Linked DNA regions of Homo sapiens: region 2 is linked to region 1. Evidence: fine-mapped QTL for protein levels in blood plasma. A gene starts in region 1. The other region holds a variant in brackets. All regions are shown on one strand. Distances are from middle to middle.

Region 1 (12,453 bases):
TAATAATTTAACTTCCAAAGAGATACACAAGTTGTATTCTTCACTAGGAATAAATTATGTGAAAGTGAAGTCAACATTTCAGGAAAATGCCTTAAAATTGAAAACGGAATATGTCCCTTTGTATTTTTATGATCTAAACACAATGAGAAGGTAAGCAGGATCATTTTTTACCCACAACACATAAAATCTCAATTAGTTATGGTCTATTTGTGCACTGACTTAAAACATTCGTTAACGAAACAGAATTTTCTAGTTTACTGGATAAATATACCAGAAATGGCAGAATAATGTCAGGTTGCCAAGCAACCACAGCTCTACTCTACTTTGTGATCAATCCAACTCATTCATTGAGCTTCCTAACCCAGTGATACAGAATTCCAACCAATTTGTTTCTTGGGAAAATTATAGTGACTTTCAGTAACACAATAACACTTTTATTCTCAGAAGATAAACTTAAATCCTTTTTGATCAAAGGGATGTGTTAATTCATTATTCTCTACGTGGTGCTAATGAGAAAGCTATAATTAACTAACTACACTATTGCGACACACATAAAATAAACTGCAGTAATTAGTAATGTTTAAGGTGTTAAGCAGCCTCCCAAATTAGAAAATACAATCTTTCCTCAGATAAAGATGTACAGAAAAAAGAAAGCAGCATATCTAATTAAATTGAGAATTGTTTCCAGTCTCCCCCAAGGGGTGAGAGGAAAGGCATGTGATCACCAAAATATAAGAGATTTCACTTTAATAGCAGAGAAAAGGCTCAATGCCAATTCTACTTGTAGATAGACATAAAATGATAGCGAATAATGTAATCTTTCTTTGAAAGAATGCTTAGCACAATATTTTTCCAGGAACAAACAGAAAGAATATTATGCTTTCACTCATTAGCTGTGTTAACTTAGCATATTGTATGTAAATGACCATAATAATTGCATTCTCTTCCGACTGAATTAGTCAGAATGAAACTGTAATCAAAATGTTCATAATTGAAAATATAGTATTCTCAATCTTGGTTTGAAAAAATAACAAGGAACGTTGACTGAATCAGATAATATAGTACATCACTGAAAACAACCTCAGTACAGAGACAAGTTCATTCTCTTGATTATACCTTTGCATTTCAATTAGGTCCCCAAATTCAGAACTCAACACCTCCCAATCTGTCATGTTTTCCTACTCTTACCATTTGTCTCTGGACTAACTTAAGCATTCCAAGTGCATTGCTGCTAGATTTTTAGGGAAAATAGAAAATGGTGAAAAGCTAATTTTATTGTTTCTAAAATACATTAGACTCTATTGCACTGTTGGCTGTCATAAATTAAAGGGCAAAATAATTTCCAATAAATGAAACATTTAATGCCAAAGCTCCTGGGAAACAATATGTAAATGATCACATGAATTTCAGAGAAGCTGTCACACTAATTCCTCAAGGTACCTTTTAAAGATGACATATTCACAGTGAGGATGAGAGGGTTGTCTTGCAAAGCCAAACACTGCTACCTGAAGTAATACTCTCAGTATTTCCTGACAATCATTCCTTCAAATCTGACACCAGTAGTTCCCCAACTATTACTTAATTTTCTTTTATCGGTTAAAAATACAAGAATCTTAAATCAGTCTTGATCGTTACCCTTATTTTTCTATAAAAGCGAATCAGGCTAAATTATTTCAACAAAGCAATTTTGGGGCAAATAACCTCCTATCTTCAAAGATTTCAGAAGCAACTATAAAATCAGGTTTCTATCTAGCAAATGTTTTTCTGGGTGAGCTCTATTTTGTAAAGGTCACTAAGGATCTTTGTGATGGTGACATCTGTCAGGCTTTACTTGCCTCAAGTTCACCAAGAAATGCCTATATTTTAATAATCAAATGATTTTAAAAATTTATTTAAAACCAATTCATGTAATGAGATGAATTAACTTAAATGCAATAAGTATAGTATGTGCAAAATCAACTCCTCTTAGACCTACAGCTAGGCCCACGAAGTGTACAGTGTACTTATCAGCAGATAGGTTGGAGGACCTATATAACCATGAGGAATCAATAAATATCTATAGCCGTTTCTTTGAAGAAAAGGATCCGTAAGTCTACATGCAACAGATAACAATCTGGGAAACATATATTCATCATCATAGTCTTGTGCTGCAGTGAAGTGGGTACAAACATACCCTGAAAGAGATTTTAATGAGTTGCCATAGCCAGTACTCACACCCATCCAGTAATAACTATTTGTCTCCATTGATTTGCTCACAATATTCAGGAGCTTGCAAGGAATGATTATACACTACGTTCTGCCATTACTAAAGGTAAATCCACTGCAGCACTTAAGGCCATAAAATGGAAAGCCAGGGTATACATAGGCTCTGTAACCACGTTAAATTATGAAAGCCAAATGGTGGTCCCTCACAAAGAGACTGAAATTAAGACAAACCCAACTGCAACATCTGCAGGTGAAAGAGAAAACACAAAGATTTACAAAAGAAAAACTCTGGGATAAACTTTTTATTTTCTTGTCACCAAAAGTTTCCCCAAAGAGCTTCCTAAGCTTCTCTCTCCATCAATATACTGAAAAGCCAACTTCATCGGCAGTTGATCAGTTTCTCTCTTCCAATCTGCTGCAAGGCAGAGCTTCGTAGGAGTTGGACTGTGCAGTACAAATATTCATATTTTAATTAAGATTATTCTCCAAAATTAGAAAACGCAGAATTTTTACTTCAATGAAAATGCAGAGAAATGAAAATGCACCATATGTAATTAAACTGAGGATTAACTAACAGTAATGGCATCAACGACAATAACTTTTGAGTGCTTATTATGCATCAAATATGCATATGGTGTTAAATTTAAAAATCTATGGTGTTAAATTACTTGTATCATCTCATTCCAGTCTTGCAACAACCCAGTATAGAGGGTATCGATAATCTCCGTATTATTGAGAAAGGGAAACTGAGGCACGTAGTTAAATGCCTAGTCCAGAGTGACGCATCACAGTGATGGTGGAGCTGGAATTCGAAGCCACGTGGGCGTCCCGGGAGCCTCCGCCTAGAGCGAGCCCGGGGGGCCCACCAGTTACCATCGCCACGCGCACGCGCAAATCTCCCCGCGCACGGCGCGTTCCCGCGGGAGCGCGCCCTCGCGCACGCGCCTGGCAGGGCAGCCGCTCGCCGGCCCTGGGGCTGCTCCGCGGCTCCCACGAGCGGGACTGGACGCCGGCGCCCTTCGAGGAGGGGCTGAACCTGGGGCGCCCTCTCTGCCGGGCCACCCAGCCCTGCCGACGCACACCTGCCCTCCGCCGCCGGCCTCCCACCCCTTCCCCGCCCGCCTTCCCGCCCAGCAGCCCAAACGCCCACCCTGCGCTCCACCCTGCTGGCCGTCTGGGGCGGGGGTACCTGGGCCCGCGCGGCTGCTGCTCCTCCGGCCCGTGGTTTTTCGCAGGAGTTCCCCGGCCCTGCCCCTGGCTGAGACACTGTGGCTCGCAGCGAGCCCGGAGAGTGGGAACGGAGGGGCTGGCTTTCCCCAGCCTCCCGGCTCCAATCCCTGCTCCCCAAATTAATCACTTTCTCCGTGCTGCCTCCCCACGCACACTCACACTCCAAAAAAAAAAAAAAAGCGAGAGAAAGAGAGAGGCACAAAGAGGAAGAAGGGACCATCCGCGACCGGCATCTCCAGCCCCCCGGGCTCCGCTACCAGGAGCCATGGCAACCACGGCCCCCGGCGCGCCCTCTCGCCCCTCGGCGGTCTGGGGAGGTGGAGCTCTAGCCCCTCTCTGGGTTTTCGTGCTCCCCAACCCCACAACCCCACGGTCCATGGATTCCCCGCTCCAGGCTGGCGGCATTTTCGGAACCCCCCCCGGGCTGGGATCTAGAATCCTCTCCTGAGAGGAGGAGCCACACAGGGGCAGTGGACTGGGGGGGTCTGAGCCCCACACACCAGGCGGTGTCCAGGGGAGCGAGGGGCGCGGTGGGAGACAGAGGCCGGGACTGACCCCCAGACCAGCTAGACCTCGGAGCCCCACCCGAGAGAGGGCGGAGATCTACGGGGGGGTCTGGAATCCTCCTCAGAGAGCAGCGAGGGATGGGGTGGCGGAGGCTGGAAGCGGGAGGGCCAACCTACCGGCGGCCGGCGGGCGTGAGTGGGACCCGGCGGATTCGGGCGCCCGGTGTGCTCCGTCGACTGACCCCGAGCTGTCCGAATCCGGCCTCGGCCACCGGGGGCGGGGCGTGAAAAGGGGGCGTCTCCTCCCGGGTGCAGGCTGAGGGGCCCGGACCACCCCCACTGCGGACGAGGGACCCTGACCGCGCCCCGCTTCCTTTCCATAACGAGTGGACCCCTCCCGGAGCACCTTCAGCCCTTCCTCCACGGGAGACCCCCCCAGCGCCGGCACGAGAGATGCCAGCGGACCCCCACCCCTGACACACCTGCGCCGCCTCCGAAACGCGATCTGTCCGGCGCCTCCCCTCGGGCGCCTTCTCCCCCGAGCCGGCCGGGAGCCGGGACGGGGGCGCGCAGGGTCCGGTAAGCTCTGGGCGGATCCAGGGAGGGTCTCGCCGGCCGCTGCCCGCTGGTCCGCACCCGGGGCTGTCCGCGGAGGTCCCGCCCGTCCCCTCCCGCCGCTGGCTCTCTGGCCGCGGGAAGGCTGGAGCCGTTCTGGCTGGCACCGGGGTCTACGCCCTCCTGCCGGAGGCTGGCTCTCGCCTCTGCTCCCTTCCTGGGTTCTGCGCCGCCACCCCTCACCCACGCCGCTTATCTTCCCTCCCTTTGCACGCTCCCGCGGGACAGGGAGAGTTACAGGCTTCAGACTTTATCTCGTTGTGGAAAGCAAGAGACCAAGCCAAAAACTTTGGTCGTGCTTTTCAACATCTCCGGTCAAAAGAGGTAGGATCCCTGCTCGTTTATCTGCAAAAGCGACATTTAAAAGAAACGCCCCCCACCCCCTCCCCGATGGTTTCACTCGGTTCATGTTGCACACACAGGTCGCCAATCTGCTTTTCTCCCATTGCTGCGTCTTAGAGGGGTGTGGTGCCATGTACGTATTAAAAATTGTCTTCTTGCTTTCCTTCATTTAAGGGCGTGGTGGGGCTTGCTATTGAATTTACAAAATATGCTACGACCATCCGCTGTCAAATTGTGCATGCTTAAATTTACAGATCTTCTACTATCTCACAATTTTTGCCCTAATACAGAGTCTATAATGTTACCACATCGTTTCGTAACGTTTTTCCTACTTATCCTTTATTAATTCACTATTGGAGAGGAAAGCCTTCTGTACTCATATTCAGTGCAAAAAGCCAGTTCTGATGCCTTATGAATCCACAAACACATAAAAATATTTTAGGATTCCAAAATTCATATGGAAAAATTATAATTTTTAGCACTACATTTGATTTATATGCCACTTTATTTTTTTTCCATTATGGTGGTATTTTCCAAAATTTTTACAGGATACCACTTTTGAAAATCCTGTTGAATGCAAGTCCTCTTTGTTGGTAAGAGAATTATTGACTTCTAATTTTTACTCCACTAAGGCTGTGAGATTGACCTTACAGCCTCGTTTTGTTTTCATCTAGCTCATTGAACAATGAGGATATTTAGCTCCCCTCAGAGCTACCCTCAGAGTTGGATGAGCTATCCTCAGAGTTGGATGCCACCACCGGGAGCAGCAAAAGCGAAGGCAACTCATGATTCTGCCTCAGAAGCAATCGAATAAAATATTTTGAAAATGAATGAATGGACTTTTAAATTTTAATCATCGCTAACCTTGGGGCCTCGATTCTGTCAATTTGTGTGTGGGCACAGTTCTTACCAACTGCCTTGGCAAATTGTGAATGCAAGTGAGGGCAGGATTTGTCCTAAGTTTAAATTGTACTGCTGGAGTGATTTCTTTTGCCTGAGGCATCATTATTCACGTGGCATGTTTTCTAAAGTAGAAACAAAGATAGAATATTAAATAAAATTCCAACAGGGGGAAATACTCTGCCTGTAGAAAAACATTTCCAAGGTCAAGGAACCACAAGAGAACAACAAAGCGAAGTTGGTCTCAGGAGTTTACCATCTTCTGGGTGAACAAACATCAGCTGAGCAAGGGACTCGGAACTCCATTTTGGCCAGATGAACAGAGTACTCTTAAATATATAGCTCCTTCTTTCTTGGTGATTTGTTTCTTGACAATAGAATCATTATTTACAAAACAAATATTTATTGAGCAGCTACTATTTAATCAATCACTGGTCTGGGTGCTGGGCTCAGTAGGAAACTCAATAGGCATGGCCAGTAGCTTTTTAAAAAATCAAATACCCTCCAAATATATTAGACAGTACCAAGCCACAATACCCAAAACAAGAAGATGGCCAGTTCTTAACTATGAGTTTTTAACTGAAAGGGAGATAACATTCTTCTAAGCTTCTGGCATTGCATATAAATGAAGAAATAATAGCCACACATAGCTTACTAGGGACAGTAAGGAAGTCAGCTTGTATGCAATACACGTTATCCCAGGCAACCAAATTTTACGAAAGAAAAGAGGGAGATAGGGAAAGTCTAGGGAAGGAAAAAAGGGAGGAAGGAAGGAAGGAAGGGAGGAAGGATGGAAAGAAAGAAGGCCAGCAAATGATAAACCAAGAAAGGAAATCGTACTTTTTAAGGCAATGCAAAAGGAAGACAGATGACCTAAATTTCTACATCCAAGAAACACCTCATAGCTGTCGCTTCCAAGGATGAGTTCATATTTTTGATACATTATCAAAAGCAGGCAACACATCTAGGCTTGCCTGGCCCCAGGAATTCACAACTCTACAGCCTGAGCTTCCAGTAAGGCTGGAACCAGAAGACAGTCCCCAGCCAGAGCGGATGCTTGCTAGAGATACCTTCTGCTGCTGCTTTGGAACCCTCCCCTGGCTCCCATTCTACTGTCTGACACTTGGTTCAGACCCATTTCCCATTCAACATACAATCCTAATCTATCAGGCATCCCACAGTTGCACCTAGGTGCTAGAGAAAGAAGATATACTTATGAGTCACATGGAAATGTGATTGCCGTAGCTTTGAAAGGTGTGAATTTTCTCTCTGATAATTGAGGACGGCCGTTTCGAATGAAAATACTAATATCAAGCCACAAAAATAGGGGAGAAAAGGGCCCTATCATGAATAGAAGCAGAAGGTGAGAGAGAGGCCAGTCATCTGGAAAAAGATAAAAGCTATTAAAAGCTGGGGCATTTTTCAGCTTTTCCTGCTGATTTACTGCCTCCCTCCCTCCCTCCTGAACCATCATTTGGTATCATTCCCAGAGCTAGGGCCATTGAAGTAGTATTGCCTTTTGGCAAATACAAGTAGCTAGTGATGTGGCATCATTCCTAGAAAAATTGTTTAGCAGAAGAGCTGGAGTTTTGAAAATGGCATTTCAGTCTAGCAGTTCCAAATAGTCACAGATCAACAGGGGCTTTCCGGCCAACTGCTGTAATAAAAAATAAAAATAAAAAATAAAAAGCAGGAAGCAGGATGTTCCACTGAGGAATAGATCCTTCAAAAGCAACCTTGAAAGTACAAAGCAGCCACTTCAGCTTTGATATTAATAAAGCTAAAAAGACCATATTAATTCTGCAGAGTTATCCTGACAGAGTCACTACTCCTTTAACTTGTCCTTTAATACAAGAACAAAAGGATATGTATTAAAAATCAAAGGGCAATAATTCTGGAACAACTAAAAAGGTAAAATCTTGTATTGCATGCCATGGATCATTAATATGTATAATTCAGCCCTGGGAGGTCATGAAATCAAATACTTTCACTGGATTTTTTAAAAAGGCTAAGAAACTTTGTGGCCATTAATAACATTATAATTATGTAGCCAAGATAATGTTAAGTGTTTTCAAATCTCATGCTTTAAGGCATCCATTGATTACTTGTGCAGGTCAGAAGGATTTCCCACCCTCCAATCAGCAATGCCTACAATGACTAGTTTTCTCTCCTATTGATGGTTTGCTCCAAAGTCCTATGCCCCCAAGTCTTATCTCAAAGGCCTGTGAACTGAGTTATAGGATGAATTCCTATTTGTTGGAGAAAGTCCTCATATGTCTGGAGGATGAGAATTTCTTCTAAACCTCTCTATTTCCAACATGGTACGAAATCTTTTCAGTCTGGAAGGGACCTCAGAAAACATAATCTTCCATAGCTTCTTTTTATATCTGAAAAGAGTAAGGTTCAGAAATTTTATCAGAGTTGTACAACTGGTTAATGGCCGAGAATATATTGAAAAAAATCTCCAAGTTTTTAATCTTGTATCATTTTACAGGATGAAAAGTCACTGCCATCTTTGAAGATAATTTTATTTATTATTATTCTGTTGCAGCAAACAAGACAAATGTCGAATAGTGGGATAGCGAGTAATACCAGGAGCATAAAGGCTGATCTTTTTACAGAGACACATAGCCAAAATGAAGTTTCTCCTTTTCTTTTTTTTTCCAGTTGTTTTTGAAAGTATGTTTTCCACTCAATGTAACAGAAACATGTTAGAGAAAAAGGAAAGACCAACAAGAGCTTGTGGCAGCCACAGGTTGTTCTCCACTTCCTCTGCCCACTAATCTGTTTTTTGTTGTTTTTGTTGTTGTTGTATGTGACGGAGTCTGGCCCTGTCGCCCAGGCTGGAGTGCGGTGGCGCGACCTCGGCTCCCCGCAAGCTCCGCCCCCCGGGTTCCCGCCATTCTCCCGCCTCGGCCCCGGGAGTAGCTGGGACCACAGGCGCCCGCCAACCCGCCCGGCTCATTTCTTCTTGTATTTTTGGTAGAGACTGATTTTCACCATGTGAGCCAGCATGGTCTCCTGACCTCGTGATCCGCCCGCTTCGGCCTCCCAGAGTGCTGGGGTTACAGGCGAGAGCCAATGGCGCCCGGCCTAGTTCTTTTTCTCCTTCTGGACACAGGGCCGCTAACCTAAAGACTAAATTTTCTAGTCACTCTTTTGACTTAGTTTGGTTCTAGGACTAGGTTCTCACCAAAGAGACATGAGGAAAAATGCTGTTGGCAACTCTCAGCTCATCTACTTAAAGATCATCTAGATTCACTTCTCCTTTTCCTTTTGACTAACCCACAGTAGTAAAAGGCTCATGTTGAGGATGACAAAGAAACCCCACTCTGGCCTGAATTCCTACATGACTCTGAGGATCAGAACCTACTTAATACCATAAAAAATTGAATGTCCCCTTTCAATTTGAGCCAATCTCCTTTGGAGACTTTTATTATAACTGCTTAAACTTTATCCTTAATGCAACTGTAATCTCTGTCGTCAGAACAATTTCAGAAGAATAGTTAAGAAAAATAAGAATGGAAGCTACCACGAATACCTGTTGTTTTTTGCTTGCCAAGCATTTATCTCCGTTCATTTAGCCTGGTTGGACCTAGGGAATAATATCTCCTATGTTTATGTGGCCGAATTGAGGCTAATTCCAATGCTTTCTAGTTACCCCTGGTCCATGTGACCCAGGCACGACCAGCCAATATTTTCTACTCCTAAGTCTATGGGGACTAAAGCTATGAAGGGCATCAGACCCAACAGAAGCCAATGAGAAACCTACCTTGGATTTATGAGCTACTAGGAAAAAACTGAGGGTTGCTCAGAGGTATGACATAAGGCAGGAGAAACTCCCTTCTTCTTATCACCACTTAGAAAGAGCCTTCCTGAGAATAAAGTCACCATAGAGAAAAGAGGAGAGAGACAGATACTTGAGAATTATATTCCAAGACCTAGATCTTCAAATAAACTGAAAGGTTATTTTTTATTAAAAGCTGAAACTGGAATACAACTTGACCTTGTAGCCGGGTGAGACAAAAAAATGTTTCATGTAAAATAGTTTCGATGGTTTCCTGTTTCTTAAAATCAAAATAATTCTTCTTCGTGGTACATTTCTAGGTAAGATTATTCTCTTGTTATAGGTTGTTTAGTAAGAGGTGTATACATGGCAAAAAAAACTCTTCATTTCATAAACTAACCTAACTGATTGGTAGTGACTTACTGAAACACTGTGTCCAAAGGATCCTGACCCTGCATCGGAGCTGAGCAGGAAAGGTTAAAGTGACCTACTAATGTTTTCTATCACAGATATTATACAAAAGATAATTCTCATGTGTTAGGTATTTACTATTCTTGCTTTAAGATATTCTTAAGGTTTAGCATACATTTAGACATGGGTGGGGACTTTATTCTTTTGAACTAAGGTATAATAGGACATCCTTTTAAGGCATATTTTTATCCGTTTTTTTAAAAAGCCATGGACCAATTAGCCCTCTCCATGCATAGTTTAGGAACCATATTTCATGCTTTCAATTAACTTTATTTTCCTACAAAATAAATTAATTAGCAGACATGTACTGAAATCACAGGTTGCTAGTATGTGATGCACTGTGCTAACACAAACATAACTCAGTTTTTTTACAAGCATTGCATTGGATTTATTGTCTTCCAGGGGTTAAATGAGACCTATCAATTTATTATTTTCATGTTGTTTTTCAGAATATGATAAACAGACAAACCTTCTTAGGCATTCAAAGCACTATGCCACAGTACAGTAAGCCCACAGCAAGGGTTCCAAATCGTCTGTTTATATTGACATGAAAAATTTGCCTTATCTTATGGGGATTAGTTACTCTCTCTTATGCCATATCCTTTCTGTTTCTCACTTAGAGAGTTTTGTGCCAGCTCATACTACAACACTTAAGGTCACATAACCAGGCAAGAGCTTTATATATAACACTTGTATTGCCCATATATTGAGTTTTCTCCAAACAGGAAACACTTATTGACTTAGATTCCTTTTTCTGTATCTGAGTGAATGCACAATAATACAAATATAGAACACATTTTCAAATATTATTACTTGCATATAGAAGCCATCTTAAAAGTTTCCTAAAAGTAAACGCTTATACACTGTTGCTGGGAATGTAAATCATTTCAGCCACTGTGTAAAGCAGTTTGGAGATTTCTCAAAGAACTTAAAACAGAGCTACCATTCAACCCAGCAATCCTGTTACTAGGTATACATGCAAAGGAAAATAAATAGTTCTACCAAAATACACATTCACTCATATGTTCATCACAGCACTATTCACAATAGCAAAAACATGGAATCAACTTAGGTGCCCATCAACAGTGTATTGGATACGAAAATGTATACACCGTGGAATACCATGCAGCCATAAAATAAATAACAAAATTGTGTCCTCGTTAGCAACATGGATGCAGCTGAAGGCCATTATCCTAAGCAAATCAAGGCAGGAACAGAAAACCAAATACCACGTTCTCACTTACAACTTGGAGTGAAAGATTGAGTACCCATAAACATAAAGATGGCAACACTAGACAATGGGAACTAGTAGCTGAGGGAGGGGAGGAGGGGACTAAGGATTGCAAAATTAATTACTGGGTACTATGCTCGATGATCCTGGGTGACAGGATCATTCACACCCCAAACCATAGCACCATGTAATATACCCATGTAACAAACCTGCACATGTACCCACTGAATCTAAGATAAAATTTGAAATTATTTTTAGAAATTCCTAAATTTAAGCAGATTTTAAAGTCTTAAATATGGATAAAGGAGGAAATTTGATGATGAAAGTCTCAAATATTTCTGGGTACTTAAAATATTCTGATACATTTACCCAAAGATGAAGTAGAGAAGCTAACAACCATAATGAATATATTCAGTGTGGATAATAAGGAACAAACACAAATCAATTAAATAACTTGATAATATTTTGCCAAAGAAAAAATAGTAAAGCCAAAATGTAATTGCATGACACGATTGTAGGATGAAAGCCATATTAAATATCATTAATGTATGCAACCATTTTACAAAAAAATTACATGTTATTTACATTACAATTTAATAACAAAAATAGCAATTATATTGAAGGGGTTTAAAGACGTACATAAATTTAGACCCAGGCATTCTCCTTCTAACACTCTATACGATGTAAGCAAACTGAACTACAGGAAACTCTATATTCCCATAGATATTCAATGATAAAATAAATTATAAATATCTAAGAACATAATTACTAGTTTAAACCATATGAAATTACCATTATCTGAGCATTTCTGACCTGGAAAAATGACAATTTCACATTGTTTAAACTAATAGATTATTCTGCAATCCTGTAATGAAGCAGCCAATAAAATTATGTTTTCAAAGGTTTGTAATATGAGAACTCTTTCCAATGTGAAGTTATAGATTTCTAATAATGGGTCCTTTCAGAACCAACCAACCCTAAAACTATGAAGTATAGACCAGGTGTGGTAGTTTACACCGGTAGTACCAGCACTTTGGGAGACGAAGGCAGGTGGATCACTTGAGGTCGGGAGTTTGAGACTAGCCTGGCCAACAGGGTGAAACCCCATCTCTACTAAAAATACAAAAATTAGCTGGGCGCAGTGGTGCACGCCTGTAATCCCAGCT
Region 2 (12,453 bases), 57 kb after region 1:
CTTATCTTTTCACCTTGTTTATAAAAGGACAGAGATGTTTTATGAGTTGAATTTAAATTAAAATGAAACATTACTGTAGTAAGAAGGCCGAGGGATTTGAGCTTTTGTCTCCTAATGACATATTTAGCAAGGGTCTCCGAACACAATAAAATGAAATCACAAATCAAGAACTTGACTTCGTAAGAAACAGTTATAATTGATTAAATAAACTCTTTTTTAGACAGCATGAAGTTGGCACTAATCACATTCAAATCTAATTATATTCTAAAATTGATGTATGTTTCATCCAAAAATCTCATTCAACAATCTAGGAGAATTAAACAGAAAATGACACCTCTCCTTTTCTTACCTATTTTATTATTATTATTATTTATTCAGCCTAGGCACTAATAAAGAAAAAAGCGCTATGTAAATATATTAATAATGAGATAAAACCATAAATCTTTTATACCTGCTAAACTCAGACAGTGATTAAATATTGAAACAGATTCAATTCACTGGAAATGCAAAAAAAAAAAAAAGAACAACATTAAAAAAACAAGGATTCTTGCAAAGAAAAAAGTGCTGGCTGAGAAAATTTCATAATAGTTTCAAAGCTATAATAAGTAAAGTGCCATAATATAATATGCTAAATGACCCATTCTGAAACATTATGGCTTTGTTTGATGTTGTAAATTGCTTTATAACATGCTAGTGTCCATTGAAAATAAATCATATTACTTTAAATTATGGCAGTATCTGTTTGCTCTTAATTATTATTTTTTACCTATGACAACAAACCAATGTTGCAAAAATGAAGACTTGTTTCCTGATATTTTTGAGATAGATATCAACATGAACTATGGGAATTAAAATGTCTCTGAATAATGGCTTGGACTTACTCTAGTGAGTATATATTTTCATGGTTTAGTGTTAAAGTGCACATTGATGTCTGCCATCTAAATGAATTCTTGACACTGAGCTGGCAAAATAAAAGCAATGTGAGTAAGTTAAATACTCATTAATGTTACAAGCTCAAGAAAAACACGTATTTGATCTTTTTTAGGGACATATGGGAGCATCCAAGGTTATAGAAATTTTACACATGATCATGTTTAAATGTGAGTGCATTATGACATTCTGTTGTATATTGCCAATATATAATAATATATTGGGATAAATTGGATTTGAAAGGATGTCTTAGCCCTTCCTCATTCATTCTCCCTTTCCCTCCCCTTCCCTTGTCCCTCCTTTCCTGTTTCTTTTCCTGTATATCAATTTAATCTTAATCCTTATGTAGAATAAAACAAAGTAAACATCTGTGGCAGTAATGGGAGGGAGCCACATTTTTCTAGTGAAGGTGCCCCAGGATGTCTATGTAGCAGGAAATTCTGCAGGGAATGTTGAAGCCTGGCTGGGTTCAGAAGGCCATCAGTGCAGAAGGGTGGTCTGATGGAGATAGTAGGGCCAACTAGGGTGATGACCATGTTCACATACAGGGACACCAATCATGGCGTCAGAGTAGGGCATGGAGGGCATTCATGTTGGAGAGAAGGTAACAGCAAAGGCAGGATATTAGATGCAGAGGGATTGATCAAATAAGCAAATCAATTAAAAATAATGGGATATAGTTTTCTCACTATCAGAGACATGGATATACAAATATGGAAAGGGGAAAAACTAGATGGAACTCTAGGATGTTGGATTGAAATTACAGGTATTGCTGTGAACTCATGTTTTTCAATGTATATGTGACAGAGATGCGAATAAATGTAGATAAAAACATGAATGTATTTTGTGTATGCATTCGTGTATTGCATAGCTGTTTTCACTCAAGGGCCTGCAAATGGGAACACTCCAATACCAATAAGCACATTTAGCACACAGATCTTGGCTTCCAAATATCATTCTGGAGCTCCATGAAGAAATGGTTAAATCCATGGCTGAGAAAGGGAAAGTGCAAAGTAATCCTAAAACATCTCATTATGCCAGAAAATATGAAAGCACTAAAAAAAACATGGTCAAGAGGGTAAAGAAGCCAGACAGAAGGAATTCTCATTGGCCAAATCTGAGACCATATAGCATGAAAATAAATGAGCATAGCAATAGATTTTAAACAATTGGATAAAACAGGAAACATGAGTCCATGCAAATGTAAGTAAAAGAATTCATTGAAAGTTTTATGAAGAATGAGCTATTTATACAATTTTAAGTATCTCCCAATAAAATAAATATTAATTATAAGGGGAAAAAGTAACTTTACATTGGGGAAAATTGGAAGGCACCAACTAAATCAAGTGGCCAAAATGAACAAATAGAAATAAACCCATGGAAATCACAACGTATGTCAGGATTCAATGAGAAGAACACAGCATCACTTCAGTGATACTCTTTCTAAAGACACATCATCTAAATCTAACCATGAAGCACCATTGCATGAACTCAGATTGAAGGATGGTTTTAAAAATAACCAGGCTGTGATCTTCAAAAGTGTCAAGGTCAAACTCAATGATATTAAAGACACATCACAGCTAAATGCAGCTTGTGATTCTGAATTGGATCCTTTAGCTATAAAGGGCAATATTGAGACAATTGATGAAACTTGAATGAGATCTGAGGACTAGATGGCAGTAATTTTTCAGTTCTAATTTCCTGACTCTGATGGGTGTGCTGAGGTGATGGAGGGAATGTCTTTGTTTATAGGCTACTAGGTGGTAACATGGCATTTGGTTGGCAATTTACCCTCAAATGGTTCAGGAGAAAGTTCTGTTACTGTACTTCTAATTTTTATTTAGGTCTGTGATTGTTCCAAGTTTTTATAAATGATAAAATCTTTGGTATCAGAACCTCCCCCAAAACAATTTGCTATTCTCCCAATTTAAAGATAGTTTTGATAATTCGGATTGCTTTAACAATCTCTGAATTTTAATGGATATAATAGATTGCTACCACCCTAGAGAATTTCTATGTAATTCAATTATTTTTCTAGTTCACTTTATATCTTGCTGTGATGTATTTACACATTGTACCCTGGGACCTAAGGATAATATGGATAATCAATTGTTCAACAAAATGGAATGCAAGCCCTAAGACAGCATATACCATTCTTATATATGGTTTAAAATATGCTTATTTAATTCCATGTTAGAGTAAAATCAGATAAAATTACAATTATATTCATGTATTCTCCAGAAGTTAACTAAGCCCTAAAGTGATTAGCCACAAAGAAATTTTAATTAGTTTGATGAAATCAGCCTTATAAGCAGCTGGAAATTTGGAGATCCCAGAAAATGATGTTATTTAATCTTAAAAAAAAATCCCAAGGAATTAAAATGCTTTTTCTGAGAGGAGCAGAGGAGTAACTCCCTGCCAGAACAACACAACTTGTATGCAACCGTGTTCCTCCACAGTTATCTCTGTTTTAATGTGCGTGTGGGGTTCCCGGATTACAAAGCGGCTGAGGTAGGCACAATACTGTTATGTGAATAATGGTATTAAGACAGACAATATGGATTATTGACATTATGTTTTACATAATGCCATATAAAACAAGGGGCCTTGCATAGCAAATCTCTGCTGAAAAGGCTCAACCTTATCACATTACCATGGATCAGTGTGAATTCCTTTTTTAAAGCAGAGTTCTGACCAGGGTTGGGAGCCAAGTTCTTTTCTAACTGTGTTTATGCAAAGACTTCATTTCAGATACCTTGGGCTGGAGCAGCATGTAAATTGTCAGTAAAAAATATTGCTAGCCTGAAGCTACCAATAGAGCCAGTTGTACAGCCAAATGTGCAGATTTGGCAAACCAGCTGTCTTCCCTGCTCAAGGAATTTTCGTGTTGTGCTCCTGCTAAGCAAATCAAACAAGCATTACTTCAGTGGCTTTTATATTGCAATGAAACCTGAGGCTTTGTGGAAATTTAAACAAAGGTTACTCAATATTTTCTCTCTTCTTTTAATGATCATTTCTTCACTTGTTTCTTACATACAAGTTTCAAATGTTGAGAATGTCTAAAGGACAAAATGTAATCCTACATTTTGGCATTTTCAACTACTATAAAGATAGAGAGAGAGGTAGGGAATGAGGCAGAAAGAAAGATGAGCTGGTTCTAAGAACACAATGTCCTTTCTTTTGTTTCTAAAATGATAGATCCATGAAGGCAGCTATTTCTGCTATTTAATTTACTATCATGGCACTCATCAGTGCATGGAAAAATGCCTGGTGGATTTCTGAATTTAAAAGTATTTACTTCTAGGGTAGAGAAAAGTGACTTACATTAAGTTCTTATCATGGGTTTAAGTCATTATTCTTAATTTGGAAGGAGTTTAATCCTGAGAGGATGAAACCTCCTAAAATGAAAAAGAAAGGCTATCATTACTAATTTCTCAAGAACATGGCTTTCTAGTGGAGTCCCCAGTCAGATCAGAAGACAGTCCAGACCAAATGTTTCTTTGAGCATTATTCATTCTTCATTTAACAAATTTGTAGTGTATATCTAGTATGTGTCAAACACTGTAACACATGCTGTAGATATAAACACAAATGGACAACTTCTCTACCTTAGGATGTTTAGTGAGGGTGAAAGATTCTGCAGTACAATGTGATAAGTACTATGAAATGGACACCACA[A/G]AGGTGTGGTTTTTGACCCAAATGATGTTAGTATTCATAAATAATAAGAATAAAGTAACATAAGAAAGTCTAATAAGAAAGACAGCCAGATAAGAAGTCTGAATAGTTATGTTGCCCTCAGTATAAAAGCCCTCACGTGTGTTTTGCAAGCAATGGGAGAGCTTCTGTCTTTATTTGTATCATTTCCCCTGAGCTTTCTGTCTACTTAGTAAGCCTATTTAGAAGGTCTTTGGTTTCTGCCCACTTGAAATCATACTAACAAAACCTTGTCATTTTAAAATTACCATTCCACAAGCTACTTTTTATTAGGCATTGTGCTAAGTCTTTTGCATTATCTCATTTATCTTTTAAAATATGCTGCAAGTAAACTATGCATCTGCCAAAGTTCTAATATCCAGCATCTATAAGGAGCTTAACAAATTTACAAGAAAAAAACAAACTATTACATTAAAAAGTGGGCAAAGGACATGAACAGACACTTTTCAAAAGACAACATACATGTGGCCAACAAGCATATGAAAAAAGCTCAACATCACTGATCATTAGAGAAATACAAATCAAAACCACAATGAGATACCATCTCACACCAGTCAGAATGGCTATTATTAAAAAGTCAAAATATAACAGATGCTGGTGAGGTTGCAAAGAAAAAAAGAATTCTTATACACTGTTGGCAAGAGTATAAATTAGTTCAACCTTTGTGGAAAACAATATGGCAATTCCTCAAAGAGCTAAAAGCAGAACTACCATTCAACCCAGTAATCCCAATACTGGCTATATATCCAAAGGAATATAAATTATTCCATCATAAAGACACATGCATATGTATGTTCATTGTAGCACTATTCACAATAGCAAAGACACAGAATCAACCTAAATGACCACGAATAGTAGACTGGAGAAAGAAAATTTGGTACATACACACCATGGAATACTATGCATCCATAAAAAAGAACAAGATCATGTCCTTTGCAGGAACATGAATGGAGCTGGAGGCCATTATCCTAACTAACACAGAAACAGAATACCAAATACCGCATGTTCACGCTTATAAATGGGAACTAAATGATGAGAACACATGGGCACATTGAGGAGAACAACACACACTGAGGCCTAGGTACAAGGAGGGAGAGGATCAGGAAAGATAACCAATAAATACTTGGCTTAATATCTGGGTGACAAAATAATCTGCACAACAAACCCCTGTGGCACAAATTTACCTATGTAACAAAGCTGTATATGTACCCCTGCACTTAAAAGTTAAAAAAAATTAAAAAATAGTATGCTGCAAGTTAGATATTTCTACTCTTGCTACACAGAAGATGAAATTGGAATTTAGAATGCTTAAAAATTCAACTTTTCACATCTAGTAAGAGTCAGAGGCAGGACTACACTGCGCCCTATGACCTTCAAAAATCAAGTAATACTTTAAAAAAAAAAAAAAAAGATCCGCTTCATGGTCATTCTCGCTCAGAGCTGTGAAACTTGTCAGAATTAAAATGGAGTCACTTGGGTCAAATCCTGACAAAATGGTGTCTAAGAAGGCCATGAAGGGAGGGTTCTCACACATGATTGCCTGATAACAAGAGCTATCATGAAAGATTCTGCCAAAACCACGACTGTGCACAAGGCCACTGCAAACCGACATAAAAAATACTTCTGCAAGGACATCTGCCCAGCAACTGCCTGTCCTGCCTTAGACTGAGGCAATCCTGGTTATTCATGCTTGTAGCCAGGGATAACTATTTCAGAAACACTTATGTGGCCCTCATCATTTTACCTTTAAAAATCCTTATCTTCTTTTGCCTCCCTGAAAACACCCATGCGTATTCCTATTGCAATGCTCGTTCCTGAATAAACTTATTTTTGAAGAATCTCCTTCTGTTTGTTATTTTGATTGCCATAACCAAAAACTGTCATATATTTAGATGTTATGCATCCTAGGCAGTTTACTTACTGTGCCACTGCCCCTATAGACAATCATCACTGTGATTTTAGTCAGAGCTTCTGTTTTAGTGAACTTAAGAATCACTGAAAAACACATTAAAATGCAAACTTCTGAGCTGCAGTTTAAGGTACTAAATAAAAATTTCAGGAAGAACAATTCGTATAATTCCATTTTTATCCAGACAACATGTAATTCTAATTCAATTGTTCTGTGGACCACTTGTTGAGCCACATCGATTCAATTATCTCATTATGACACTTGGAATCACTCAGATTATGGGATAAGTCTGATACATGGACTAAAATGCTCTCAGTAGCCCTGGGCTAGAGACCTTACAATCAACTTTAAAATCAGACTTTACAGGACTCTTAATTTGTTATTTCAACATATATTTACAGAACACCTATTCTGAGCCAAATGCTGGCAATAGGAATTAAAGTGGGAAGCAGCTTAGACAAAGTATCTGCTCACAGAGAGCTTACATTTTAGTCATAAAATAAATAAATAAATAAATAAATAAATAGACATATGTAAAGTGAGGAAGTGTTAGGTGACTTTCAGGCACAAAAGTAAATAAAACTGGGTAAAATGATAGAGAAAGCTTTAGAAATGGGGCTACTTTTGACTGAGTTATTAGAGAAGATTTCTCAGAAGTGGTATTTTAGTTGAAATCTTTGAGATAAGGAGAGGCCAACCAAGAAAAGGCCATAAAGAAGGGCAAAGAGAAGAGTTATCCCGTGGGCACCTCGGTGGGAAACAAGCTTGGCATGTGTGGGAAGCTGAGAGAAGGTAGTGAGGCAGGATGTAGTCAGTGAGGGTAACAGGGACACTAAAAAATGTTAGAGGGAGAGGCTGAAGGAAAATTATGCAGCATTGGATTGCCAGTAATCAAGGTGTAATGGAGACCACCGGAGTTTTTAAAGCGAGGTAGCAAGAGAGCTTGCTATACAATCCTTCAGAATAACAAGAGCAAAAGAATTTATTGCATTGGTTGAAACTGTGTGTAATTCATCAACTAAGAGGAGATCATGGGTTGATTTTTCTTCATGTCTTCTTTAGAGGCTAATTTATTCCAGTTTCTCTTATTAATGATGTGAGACACTTACCTTCATATATTGGTCCCTATCTTGTTCAAATCCAGCTAGATTTTCGATCTCACCTGCTTAGAATTTTAGGGCTTTCATGCTGTCTACGCATTTCAGGAGTTCATAGGTTGCAATAGTGTTAATTCTTTCTGAGGAGTTAACACAGAAAATCTGGTAGCTTGCTCCTTGCATGTCGCCATTGGAACCTAGAACCATAATTAACCATGGCAAAACCCTGGGAAGATAGTATGTGGAAGATTCTTTATGTTAATGATTTATGATTTTGCTGTATATATCTGAAGCAATAGACCATGCCATACTAACTCGACAGAATTGCTTTGCACAAACATCAAAATTGATGACATGAACCTGATTTTATTATTGGAGTCCTGAGTTTCAGTCGCCCTCTCTGGTGGCACAGAAGAGTGTACTAATGTGACCAGCCTCCGTGAACATTTCAGGCCCTGACACTTCACTGGGCTTCCCTGGGCAGAGACATTCCAGGGAATCTTCCCATGGCTGTTGGAGAAAAAGCCTGTTCTGTGTGGCCTGAGATGAAGAAGGACTCTAAACCTATTCCCAACATCTATGGAATCTGCCTGATGCATATGTTTTCCCTACCATTGTTACTCCGTATAATTTGTTATAATAAACTTTAGCCATGAGAACAAACTGCTTTTGGGTATTCTGGGTCCTTCTAGCAAATAACTGAATTTGGATGGAGTGGGACTGTTGAAACACTGCCTAGCATTTGTTCCAGCTGATGGAAAAATTGTAGTACTATTTGTGTTTGTTGATTAGGCTTGTTTCTTCTTTGATAACTTCACTGCTTTCTTTTTTATTCTTCCTGATAATTTATTACTAGGGTCAAGTTTTATATACAGTAGTGTCCCCTTATTCATAGTTTCACTTTCTGCAGTTTCAGTTACCTGCAGTCAGCCATGGTCTAAAAATATTAAATAGAAAATTTCAAATATAAACTATTTAAAAGATTTAAATTGTGTGCCATTTTGAGTAGCATGATGAAATCTCCAACCATCCAGGTCCTTCTGCCTGGGATTTGAATCCTCCCTTTGTCCAGCACATCCCCACTGTATACTCTACCTGACACTGGAGAGTTAGTAGCTGTGTCAGTTATCAGACTGACTGTCTCATTATCACAGTGCTTGTGTTCAAGTAACTCTTATTTGACTTAATAATGGCCCCAAAGTGCAAGAGTTGTAATGCTGTCAATTTGAATATGCCAAATAGAATCCTTAAAGTGCTTCCTTAAAGTAAAAAGGTAAAAATTCTTGACAAGAAAAAAAATCGTATGCTACAGTTGCTAAGATGTATGTGAAGAAAAAATCTATCCAAGAAAATATAAAGAAGAAGAAAAAATAGTGCATAGTATATACAGTGTTTAATACTATATCCAGTATATACAGTGTTTAATACTATATCCAGTATATACAGTGTTTAATACTATATCCAGTATATACAGTGTTTAATACTATATCCAGTATATACAGTGTTTAATACTATATCCAGTTTATACAGTGTTTAATACTATATCCAGTATATACAGTGTTTAATACTATATCCAGTATATACAGTGTTTAATACTATATCCAGTATATACAGTGTTTAATACTATATCCAGTATATACAGTGTTTAATACTATATCCAGTATATACAGTGTTTAATACTATATCCAGTTTATACAGTGTTTAATACTGTATCCAGTTTATACAGTGTTTAATACTGTATCCAGTATATACAGTGTTTAATACTGTATCCAGTTTATACAGTGTTTAATACTATATCCAGTTTATACAGTGTTTAATACTATATCCATTTTATACAGTGTTTAATACTATATCCAGTATATACAGTGTTTAATACTATATCCAGTATATACAGTGTTTAATACTATATCCAGTTTATACAGTGTTTAATACTATATCCAGTATATACAGTGTTTAATACTATATCCAGTATATACAGTGTTTAATACTATATCCAGTATATACAGTGTTTAATACTATATCCAGTATATACAGTGTTTAATACTATATCCAGTATATACAGTGTTTAATACTATATCCAGTTTATACAGTGTTTAATACTGTATCCAGTTTATACAGTGTTTAATACTGTATCCAGTATATACAGTGTTTAATACTGTATCCAGTTTATACAGTGTTTAATACTATATCCAGTTTATACAGTGTTTAATACTATATCCATTTTATACAGTGTTTAATACTATATCCAGTATATACAGTGTTTAATACTATATCCAGTTTATACAGTGTTTAATACTATATCCAGTTTATACAGTGTTTAATACTATATCCAGTATATACAGTGTTTAATACTATATCCATTTTATACAGTGTTTAATACTATATCCAGTATATACAGTGTTTAATACTATATCCAGTTTATACAGTGTTTAATACTATATCCAGTTTATACAGTGTTTAATACTATATCCAGTATATACAGTGTTTAATACTATATCCATTTTATACAGTGTTTAATACTATATCCAGTATATACAGTGTTTAATACTATATCCAGTTTATACAGTGTTTAATACTATATCCAGTTTATACAGTGTTTAATACTATATCCATTTTATACAGTGTTTAATACTGTATCCAGTATATACAGTGTTTAATACTGTATCCAGTATATACAGTGTTTAATACTGTATCCAGTTTATACAGTGTTTAATACTGTATCCAGTATATACAGTGTTTAATACTATATCCAGTTTTAGGCACCCTCTGGGGGTCTTAGCACATAACCATTGCAGGAAAGAGGGGACTGCTGTATAGGTACATGAAGGAGATACAAAAACACATGGACATTAGATGGCTTTATGTTTATTTGTACATATACATTTATATATACATGCATTTATATATTATATATAGTGTATATATCACAATATAATACATATATAATTGATACACATACATTTATGCATATATGTAAATTTAAGTATACATCATATAAGAAGAATATGGCTGGCCTTTGCCCCTGGTTCCTGAAGGCGAGACTCTGAATCCTTGAAATTTCCCAAGTGATAGGAGTTTCTTTGTTATTCATGTGTGCCTTGGATCACACTTGAGTTTATGCAAAGCAGATGATTCAGGTTAGGGACTGGTTACCAAAAAAAGGCAACCATGTGATTAGAGAGGCTTTGAGCTTGGGAAGCTAGAAGTGGCTAGAGATTTGGTTCAATCCACTTGCCTATGTAATGAAAACCCAGTAAAAACCCTGGACACCAAAGCTTACTGGAACTTCATGGCTGATGAACACACTGACGTCCTGAGTGGGTGATGTGCTCTGATCCCATGAGAAAAGTGCATAGAAGTTCTGAATATTTGACACTCGAAGACCTCATCTATGTGTCTCTCCCTCTAGCTAGTCCTACATTGTATCCTTTAAAATAAAACTGTAATTATGACACCTTCCTGAATACTGTGAGTCATTCTAGCATTAAAGTATTAAATAGTATTAAAGCTGGGGGAGGGGACATGGGAACATCCCAGTTTTGTAGCCAGTTGATCAAAAGTACAGGTAGCCTGGGGACCCTCTAACTTGCTGTTCACATCTGAAGTGAGGGCAGTCTCGTTGGGGATCGTGTCTTTTAATCTATGGGGAGTCTAACACTAACTCCAGGTGGTTAGCTTCAAAATTGAGTTACAATATTTTAGTATACAAATGTAAAGAGTGAAGGTCAGTATATTAATCAGTGTTCTTCAGGGAAACGTAACCAATGGGATAACAGAAATATAAGAGGAGATTTATTATGAGAATTGGCTCACAACGGTTATGGAGTCCAGGAAATTTTAAGATATGCTGTCTCTATGCTGGAAAACCAGGAAAGCCAATAGTGTAATTCAGCCAAAGTCCAAAGGTTTGAGAGTTAAGGGAGCTAATGGTGTAACTGCCTGTCCAAGGCCAAAAGCCTGAGAACCAGGGAGGAGCAGTAGGGGATGGATGAGAGGCAGCTCTGGGGTGAGTCTCTGAGTTCAAAGGCCCAAGAACCAGGGGCTCTGATGTCCAAGGGCAGGAGAACATGGCTATCCCAACTCAAGAAGAGAGAGAAATAATTGGCCCTTCCTCTACCTTTTTGTTCCATTTGGACCCTCGATGGATAAGATGATGGCTGCCCACATTGGTGAGGGAGAACTGTGTTTACTCAGTCTACTGAGTAAAATACTGATCTTCTCTGGAAACACCCTCACACACACACCCAAAAATAACATTTTATCAGCTATCTGGGCATTCCTTTTCTTAGTTAAGTTGACATATAAAATTATCATCACAATCTGGCAACATGCAAGACACATATCATTCTAAGAGAATGCCTTGTTGATAATGTCCAATATTTCATTTAATTTTAACTTATCCAAGGTCCTTCAAGAACAATATACAAGGAGGCCCAGATTGGCTCTGTCCATGGTAGAGAATTTTAGCCAGTGACTTTCATTTTGCATTTGATTTTAACTTCTAAGTAATTTTGTTTCTCACTAAATGATACATATATAAGATGTCAAAGAAAGTGGTGGGTGTATAGTTGGTGTTCAATTCATGATGGCTTTCTTTTTACCCAACTCTTTATGTAGCTCAAAGTATTTCTTACTGGGACACATTCTTAGAAGGCCAATCCTTTGATGACTAAGAATAATTTCTCCCTTTAATATTTGCTCTGAAAATATAATCCCTTCAGTGTCAGACCACAACCAGGCCAATAGAGTTGCTATATCCATAGACACATGAATAATAAATAAATAGATTTTTCTGCTTTCCCA

Direction of the effects. Alleles are on the strand shown, and positions count from the first base shown. The strength of an association depends on the size of the effect and on how common the allele is.
In carriers of allele A in region 2, the plasma level of the protein whose gene starts at base 4,724 in region 1 tends to be lower than with G alone (moderate association).

The links. PIP is the posterior inclusion probability: the model's chance that the variant is causal. The UK Biobank Pharma Proteomics Project read protein levels with antibody pairs (Olink). The fine-mapping took linkage between variants from a reference panel, not from the people measured, so its PIPs are less certain.
Region 2: its variant is fine-mapped to the plasma level of the CHL1 protein (UK Biobank, PIP above 0.99).

The regions. Positions count from the first base shown.
Region 1 is chr3:189,034-201,486 of GRCh38, reverse strand. It overlaps CHL1 (cell adhesion molecule L1 like), which reads right to left and starts at 4,724. Exons shown (of 28, transcript NM_006614.4): 1 at 4,424-4,724. It overlaps CHL1-AS2 (CHL1 antisense RNA 2), which reads left to right and starts at 4,146. Exons shown (of 4, transcript NR_144487.1): 1 at 4,146-4,520; 2 at 4,979-5,031; 3 at 5,447-5,491; 4 at 5,573-5,729.
Region 2 is chr3:132,218-144,670 of GRCh38, reverse strand. It overlaps LOC107986057 (a long non-coding RNA gene), which reads right to left. Exons shown (of 3, transcript XR_001740582.2): 3 at 12,220-12,453. Among named protein-coding and RNA genes, the nearest start is that of CHL1, 58 kb to the left of the region's middle. The variant A/G (reference allele first, on the strand shown) is at 4,609.